Linked DNA regions of Homo sapiens: region 2 is linked to region 1. Evidence: fine-mapped expression QTL. A gene starts in region 1. The other region holds a variant in brackets. All regions are shown on one strand. Distances are from middle to middle. Region 1 holds the start of ZNF790-AS1 (ZNF790 antisense RNA 1). Region 2 overlaps ZNF790 (zinc finger protein 790).

Region 1 (4,396 bases):
TCTGCAACCGGTTAGACGGAGAAGCCAAGTAACTCACCAGACCAACTCAAAGTTTCAAGTTTTTTTCTAGTGCTTATATACATCTTAAGCTCAATGCTATGGTGGGACTGCACCTACAAGCAGAAATGTTGCATTCAATCAACATCTAATCTTTAACTACGGTCTAGGGTCTGGAAAGATTTCTCTAGAGTCTTGGAAAGTTTCTGAATCTTAAGACAGGCCCAGGTGAATGTGTAAGAATACTATTATTATTCGATCAGACTTTAGGGTCTGAGAGGACCCAGGCGGGGTCTTAATGGGTTCGTTTTCGCATTCCATCCCTGATACTCAGGCACCAGTTTCTCAATTTCTTTAACGTTTAACTTATGCATTCATCAAAATTATAGTAAAGTGTTAATGGAAACTGTTCTGGTTGCTAATGGAAACCTGGCCTGCCACACTGCCGAACTGAAGCCCACTGCAGAACACTGAAAATGCCTGCAAACACTGACTTTACTGACAACTCTTAAATTACAGAAAATCAAGTTCATGCTGCCTCTCCGATCTGTCCTACGGAATTGCTAGTTACAAACGTGCACATTGTCCTAGGTTCGGTTTTGCAAAGATGGAGCCCTTCAGCGAAAGCATTTGTTTGATTTCATGCATTAATGTTTCCTCTATCCATTTCCTTTTTACTTATTTATTTAAAGACGGAGTTTCCCTTACTGCAACCTCCGCCTCCCGGGTTCAAGTGATTCTCCTGCCTCAGCCTCCCAAATAGGTAGGATTACAGGCATGCGCCGCCATGCCCCGCTAATTTTTGTTTTTGTTTTTTTCTTTTTTTTTTTCTTTTGAGACGGAGTTTCACTCTTGTTGCCCAGGCTGGAGTGCAATGGCGCGCGCGATCTTGGCTCACCGCAACCTCCGTCTCCCGGGTTCAAGCGATTCTTCTGCCTCAGCCTCCCGAGTAGCTGGATTACAGGCATGCGCCACCACCCCGGCTAATTTTGTATTTTTAGTAGAGACGGGGTTTCTCCATGTTGGTCTGGCTCGTCTTGAACTCCTGACCTCAGATGATCCACCCGACTCGGCCTCCCAAAGTGCTGGGATTACAGGCGTGAGCCACCGCGCCCGGCCAATTTTTGTATTTTTAGTAGAGACGGGGTTTCACCACGTTGCCCAGGATAGTCTCGAACTCCTGAGCTCAGGCAATCCAGCCGCCTCGGCCGCCCAAAGTGCTGCGATTACAGGCGTGAGCCACCGCGCCCGGCCTATTTTATTTTATTTTAAGACGGAGTCTCACTCTGTCGCCCAGGCTGGAGCGCAGGGGCGGGATCTCGGCTCACTGCAACCTCCGCCTCTCCGGCTCACTGCAACCTCCGGCTCACTGCAACCTCCAACTCTCCAACTCTCCAACTCTCCAACTCTCCAACTCTCCAACTCTCCGGTTCACGCGATTCTTGTGCCTCCGCCTCCCGACTAGGTGGGATTACAGGCGCCCGCCAGCACGCCTGGCTAATTTTTGTATTTTTAGTACAGACGGGGGTTTCATCATGTTGGCGGCCGGACTGTTCTCTAACTCCTGACCTCAAGTAATCGGCCCGCCTCGGCCTCCCAAAGTGCTGGAACTACAGGCGTGAGCCACCGCGCCCGGCCCCATTTCCTTTATTTTATTTTACTATGTTCAGACGGAGTTTCGCTCTTGCTGTCCAAGCTGGAATGCAGTGGCGCGATCTCGGCTCACCGCAACCTCTACCTCCCAGGTTCAAGCGATTCTCCTGCATCAACCTCCGGAGTAGCTGGGATTACAGGCGCACGCCACCACGCCCGACTACATTTCCTTTATTTTATTTTTATACTTTACTAGCCTGTTTGTTGATCACAAGACTGGCGGTGCACAAGGTTGGGTCTCGGTGTTCACCGGGCGGTGGGCGTGGGCGAGGTGGGAGGGTCTCCAGCGCCTGGTGCTAATCTCCAAGAAAGTGCAGGAAACAGCACCAAACGTGATTGCAAAGTTTTGGTTTGGCGCGGCGGGTAGGCGTTCCAGCGCAGAAATGCGCAGGAAAGTTTCTGCTGTGCTTGTAGGAAGGTCGGCCACAAGCACTTCTTTTGTTTTTTGAAACCGAGTTTCGCTCTGTCGCCCAGGCAGGAGTGCAGTGGCGTGATATCCGCTCACTGCAAGCTCCGCCTCCCGGGTTCACGCCATTCTGCGGCCTCAGCTTCCCGAGTAGCTGGGACTATAGGCGCCCGCCACCACGTCTGGTTAATTTTTCGTATTTTTAGTAGAGACGGGGTTTCACCGTGTTAGCCAGGATGGTCTCGATCTTCTGACCTCGTGATCCGCCCGCCTCGGCCTCCCAAAGTGCTGGGATTACAGGCGTGAGCCGCCGCGCTCGGCCGGCCCCAAACACTTCTTATTGGCTAATCTGGAGCAAACCTGCATATCCATTGGCTGAAAGCTCCGTCTATTTTAGGGTGACTGAGAGCGTCTCTTCCTTCTGTGTTGCCTGGAAACGGACTGTTCGCCTAGTAACATCTGATCACGTTTCCCATTGGTCACCGTTTCCGGAAGCCCGCTCTCCCGTTTCCGGAATCCCCGCAGGCGCTGGGTCTGCAGATGGCGTCCAGGTACACAGTGGCGAGTGTGATTCCGCAGTCTTGGGCTGTTTGGCCAAGCGCCCGCCGGACATGGTACGCCGAAGGGTCATCGGCGTGGAGTCCTCGCTTTCAGCGTCCGCGGCTGGGAAATCGGCCATCGCTACGGCGGGAACTGGGACTCGGGCTGCGTCCCGGCCCTTCCACATCGGTCCACCGCACTCGTGGGCGCCCGCATTGGTGCTGACATAATTTCCTGACCTCTGACCCGTATTGTCTCGCGATTAAAGGTAAAAAACGGGGCTTTTTCATCCCACTGGGGTAAAACGCCCTTTTATTTCTAGCCAGGTGTTCTGTTGCAGAACGCCTCGAAGGGAGGGAGTGACCGGCAGGTTGAGGTTTATTAAATAAAATACATTCCTGGTTTATATTATGTTTATAATAAAGCACCCCACCCTTTAAAAAATCTCACGTTTTGCCAGTTGCATTATTTAGTGGACTGTCTCTGATAAGGACAGCCAGTTAAAATGGCATTTTGTTGTTGTTGCTAATTAAACCAATTTTTAGTTTTGGTGGTTTTCCTAACAGCAGCAACTTCTCAGGCTTTATAAAATCATATTTCTTGTGGGAAATTTCTGTGAAAGGCGCAGCGAGTTAGTTTGGAATTGTTTTAAAGGAAGTAAGTTCCTGGTTTTGATATCTTAGTAGTAGTATTTTCCCCAGTGTCTTTGAAATCTTATTTTTGGAGCACGTATGTAGAGTAACTTTTGTGAAAGAAACAACTTTTATTTTTTATTATTATTTTTTTTTGAGACGGAATTTCGCTCTCGTTGCCCAGGCTGGAGTGCAATGGTGCAATCTCTGCTCACTGCAACCTCCGCCTCCCGGGTTGAAGCGATTCTCCTGCCTCAGCCTCACGAGTAGCTGGGATTATAGGCATGTGCCACCACGTCCAGCTAATTTTGTATTTTTAGTAGAGATGGGGTTTCTTTATGTTGGTCAAGCTGGTCTCGAACTCCCGACCTGGGGTGATCTGCCCGCCTCGGCCTCCCAGAGTGCTGGGATTACAGGTGTGATCCACCGCACCTGGCTGATTTCATATATATATCTTCCTAAATCCTTTAAAAAGTTAGTGGATCTCTTACTTTTGTAGGATTTATTTCATAGTGTGAATGAGACACCTGTAGGCTCCAGGTCTCTGTCTTCATGAGGTGTGAAGATTCAGTGCTTTATAAAACAGTCCCCACATTCTTCAAAGGCCTTGTTCTTAATTCTCAGCACGCTTGTGCTTCTGACATTGTTACTAAAATTAAGCTAAGTTTTTCTGGTTATGTGAGAGCTGTGGAAATGTCCAGCGTTAGCCACTAATGTTTCTCCTTGATATTTCTCCGTATCTTAATACTGACTCTCAATCCATTACTCAGATGGGTGTCCTTTTCCTGGATGTCTGGAAACTAAGCCTGGCTATCCCTCTGACCTCCCTGCCGAGCTACCATTTTTTTCCTCTCTCTTTTCTTGTCTACACTTGAGTTGGTAACCTCAGCTCTTTCATGAGCAACCTTGATGCCTTTGACTCCTTCTGAGTTTATTACCCACAGTTCCATCAGCCAAGTTTAGGGGCCCATGAGAAGGGCTCGTGTAAATTTTCACATTCCTCTAACCAAAATGTAGTGTTTCCTTCCATCTTGAATATAGGCTGTAGACCCCTCGGGTATGGGGTATTGTTGGCAGTGAGACCACAGCAGTTTTTATGTCATCTGACAGCATCTACAAATAGCCTTCATGGTTGTCACTGCTTTCCAAGACATTTCCAAGTAACAGT
Region 2 (4,396 bases), 35 kb after region 1:
ATAGAAAATCATGCCATCTGCAAATAGAGATGCTCTTAGCTGTGTTCCGTTCTTTTCTCCAGTGTCTTTTATTTCTTTTACTTCCCCATTTGCCCTAGCCCAATTGCCAGTACAATGTTAAACAGAAGTGGGGATCCTTGTCTGGTCCCTGATCTTAGAGGGAAGACATCCAGTCTTTTACCATTAAGTGTGATGTTGGCTGTGGGTTTTTCCTAGATATCAGGTTGAATTCCTCTTTATTCCTAGTTTGTAGAATGTGTATGTTTTAAAAAAAATCATAAAGGGTATTGGCTCTGGTCAAATGCCTTATCTCTATCTATTGAGATGATTGTGTGATTTTTGTTTTTTTATTCTATTGATATGATGTATCACATTAACTGACTTTTGATGGTGAGCCAACCTTGCATTTCTGGGATAAATCCCACTCAGTCATGTTATATAATTCATTTTAGATGTTACTGGATTTGGTTTGCTACTACTTGTTGAGGATTTTTACACCCATATTCTTATGAGATATACTTTGTCTCGTTTCAGTATCTGGGAAATACTGGCCTCATAAAATGAGCTGGGGACTTGGCTGTATTCCTTAATTATAGTAGAAGACACTGGGTGAACTCAGAGCTGATAATAGGAGTCCTCCTGAACCAGTTGAGCTTCTGAATGGTAAAGAAGGCCTGGCTATTCAAAGGGAACCAAATTTTAAAAAAATTGTCTTCTACTGGGGTAACAGAGGAAGAAACCCTTGAGCAAAAAAACCTTAAAAACTACCCTTGCCCCATTCACTTTTTTCACATGAAAATACCAGTGACAGCTATTCCAGGAAAATCTATTACATCCTCTCCAAAATATAAATTAGATATAACATGCGTAAGATAGTTAGATAAAAGTTTTAGGCTGGTGCAGTGGCTCACGCCTGTAATCCCAGCACTTTGGGAGGCCAAAGCGGGCGGATCACGAGGTCAGGAGATCGAGACCATCCTGGCTAACATGGTGAAACCCTGTCTCTACTAAAAATACAAAAAATTAGCCAGGTGTGGTGGCATGTGCCTGTAGTGCCAGCTACTTGGGAGGCTGAGGCAGGAGAATCACTTGAACCTGGGAGGCAGAGGTTCCAGTGAGCCAAGATCACGCCACTGCACTTCAGCCTAGCAACAGAGCAAGACTCCATCTCAAAACAACAACAACAACAACAACAAAAAACACACAAAGTTTTAAAAGTGTGTCAAAATCCCCCATGTACAAAAAAACTCACTAAAAAAATCAGAGAAGATGAAAATCATCACCCAACATTTCAGTCTGAATTAAAAAAAAAGTATGATGCAATTGCAGCTCTAAAAGCAGACCACAAGCAAAAATATACGATCTCAGGAGAGAGAAGAAAGTAATAGATAGACCATAGATGGGAGTTAGTGGAATTCAAGACTGAAAGAGAAAATAGGCTAAGTCACATCAGAAATGAAGAATAAACTAGCTAGTGCAGCGGCATGTGCCTGTGGTCCCAGCTACTTGGGAGACTGAGTCTAGAAGATTGCTTGAGTCCAGGAGTTCAAGGTTGAGGCCAGCCTGGGCAACACAGTGAGACCCCCATCTCTAGGCGCATAAGATCTGACAAATGCCACAGAAAGTATAGTATGGAACACAGAATACAGAAATTAATGAACAGAACAAAATTTAACAAAGAAACAAAAATCATTTGAAGAAATGAAAATGAAAAGAGAGATCCAATATGCAAAACGCAGAGCACCTAAAAATGAAATCCAAATTAAGAGGATATATCTAAAACGATGGTTGTAGCTGTGTATCTAACACTACAGTTTTAATACTCAAGATGAATTTCCTGAAATAGAGTATAAATAAACGTGATGAAAAGTGAAACCATATTACAGGTGAAAATGAACCAAAATAGTAGCAAAACATGACCTAATAAAATTAGACTAAAACTCATGGGGAATCAAGATAAAAATATCAAATATAAGAAAAAGGAAATTCAATTGTCATCAGACTTCTGCAGTGCTAAATTCAGTACCCCAAACAGTGGGGTAAATCTTCCAATATACTTGTGAAAAAAACAAATGAGGGAGTCAAAACATTTTTATATCCAGCCAAGCTGTCATTCGAGTATAAAGGATATAAGGAGTTTTATGATGCAACTTAGGAAATACTGTTGACATGCGCT[G/C]TTTCAGAAGAAGCTACTAGAAGACATACTCCAGCCACAAAAGAACAATAGTGAAAGTTTCAGCAAAAGAATAGTAGTGATGCTGAACATATTTAAATGCAAATCTAAATAAAATAGTAAAAGCGGAATTATGGTAGCCAGCATCCTGGATGGCCCCAAAGGTACCCAGTATGTGGTATTCACAACACTGTGTAGCTGCCTCCTATACTGAATAGGATTAACTTGTATAGCAATAAGGTACTGCGGAAATGATAGAGTATGAGATAGATATAAAAGACACTGTGGCTTCCAGCTTATGCGTTCTTGCTGTCCTTTTGCTCTGGAGAAAACCAGTTGACGTATCACAGGGACACTTAAGAAACCCCATGGAGAGGTCTACATGGTGAGAAACTGAAGTCTATTGCCAATAGCCATGTGAGAGCCACGTTGGAAGGTGATCCTCTAGTCCCTGTTATGCCTTCAAATGATAGCAGCCCTGGCCAAGAGTGTGACTGCAACCTCAAGAGACCCCAAGCCAGAACTTCCCAGCTAAGCCACTCCTGAACTCCTGGTCCACAGAAAATGGTGTTAAGATAATAAATATTTATTTCTGTTTTAGGGTAATATGTTTTACAGCAATAGATAACTAATATAGAAATGAAGGTTAGAGAATAGAAAATAGACTAGCTCATTGATTGCCTCATTTGTGATAACTGAGAGATAAAGGGTGTCATTTCAAGCTGAAAATCAAGGGGAAGAAATTTAGAAATGTTTAGGACTACAGCCAAGGCAGGAGGACTGCCTTGAGGCCAGGAGTTTGAGGCCAGATTAAGCAAAAGAATGAGACCTTCTCTAAAAAAAAAAAAAAAATGAATACAAATGTAAGTCAAACAGGGCAAAATGTCAATTAAATTTCAACATACAAGCAAAAAGTAGGAAATTTAAAATGACAGCACTTAGCAGGAAAAATTCAAATTCCTATAAATAAATCTAACAATATATGTAACATACAATATCTTTTGTTTGTTGGTTTGTTTTTGAGACAGAGTCTCGCTCTGTCACCCAGGCTGGAGTGCAGTGGCACAATCTCGGCTCACTGCAACTTCCGCCTCCCGGGTTCAAGTAATTCTCCTGTCTCAGACTCCCGAGTAGCTGGGACTACAGGCACCAGCCATCATGCCCAGCTAATTTTTGTATTTTTAGTAGAGACAGAGTTTCACCATATTGGTCAGGCTGGTCTCGAACTCCTGACCTCAGGTGATCCACCTGCCTCAGCCTCCCAAAGTGCTGGGAATACAGGCATGAGCCACCGCACCTGGCCTGTACAATGTCTTTATATTAATTACTACAAATAGTTAAAGAAGACCTAAACAAATGAAATAATTTATCACATTCATGGGATGAAAGGCTGATAATTTTCAAGGTGTCAGTTTCCCCAATATAGTGGTATAGGAAGCTTAAAAGTAAAAGGATAGCAAAAGATATACCATGCAAATCATAATCAAAATAATGCTTAGGTGGCTATAATATCAAGACACCATAGATTTCAGAGCAAATAAATAACATGGAAGAAAGGATGGTCTTGAATACATGGTGCCAGGTCAACTGAATTTATATGAGGAAAACAAATCATGATTTCCCCTCACGACACAAAAATCAATTCCAGGTTTATATACCTACATGTGACAGATAAATATAGATGAAAATACAGAATATCTTCATACCTTGGGGATAAGCAAAGATTTGAATAAGATACAGAGTACAAACCATAAAAGAAAAATGATAATGATCAGACTACATTTTAAAAAGCAATTTTTGTTCATCAGAAAAGAGTGAATGGGCTGGTCATGGTGGCTTATGCCTGTAATTCCAGCACTTTGGAAGGCTGAGGCGGGTGGATCATCTGAGGTCAGGAGTTCGAGACCAGCCTGACCAACATGGAGAAACCTTGTCTCTTACTAAAAATACAAAATTAGCCAGACATGGTGGCGCATGCCTGTAATCCCAGCTACTCAGGAGGCTGAGGCATGATAATCACTTGAACCGGGGAGGCAGAGCTTGCGGTGAGCCGAGATCGCACCATTGCATTCCAGCCTGGGCAACAAGAGCGAAACTCCATCTCAAAAAAAAAAAAAAAAAAAAAAAAGACAGTGAGTAAAAATGCAAACCTTACGCTAGGAGACGATATATACAATACACAAAGCTGACAAGGGACTCATTCAGATTATACAAAGAACTCTT

Evidence for each region. PIP is the estimated chance that this variant, and not a neighbour inherited with it, causes the effect.
Region 2: its variant is the best candidate, but not a certain one, in a credible set for the expression of ZNF790-AS1 in whole blood (INTERVAL, PIP 0.73).

The regions. Positions count from the first base shown.
Region 1 is chr19:36,794,948-36,799,343 of GRCh38, forward strand. ZNF790-AS1 (ZNF790 antisense RNA 1) reads left to right here and starts at 2,603. Exons shown (of 6, transcript NR_040027.1): 1 at 2,603-2,864. RefSeq lists silencers at 2,165-2,234, 2,245-2,404 and an enhancer at 2,825-2,894.
Region 2 is chr19:36,829,967-36,834,362 of GRCh38, forward strand. The region is part of intron 1 of ZNF790 (zinc finger protein 790); the gene reads right to left. Among named protein-coding and RNA genes, the nearest start is that of ZNF790, 6.2 kb to the right of the region's middle. The variant G/C (reference allele first, on the strand shown) is at 2,177.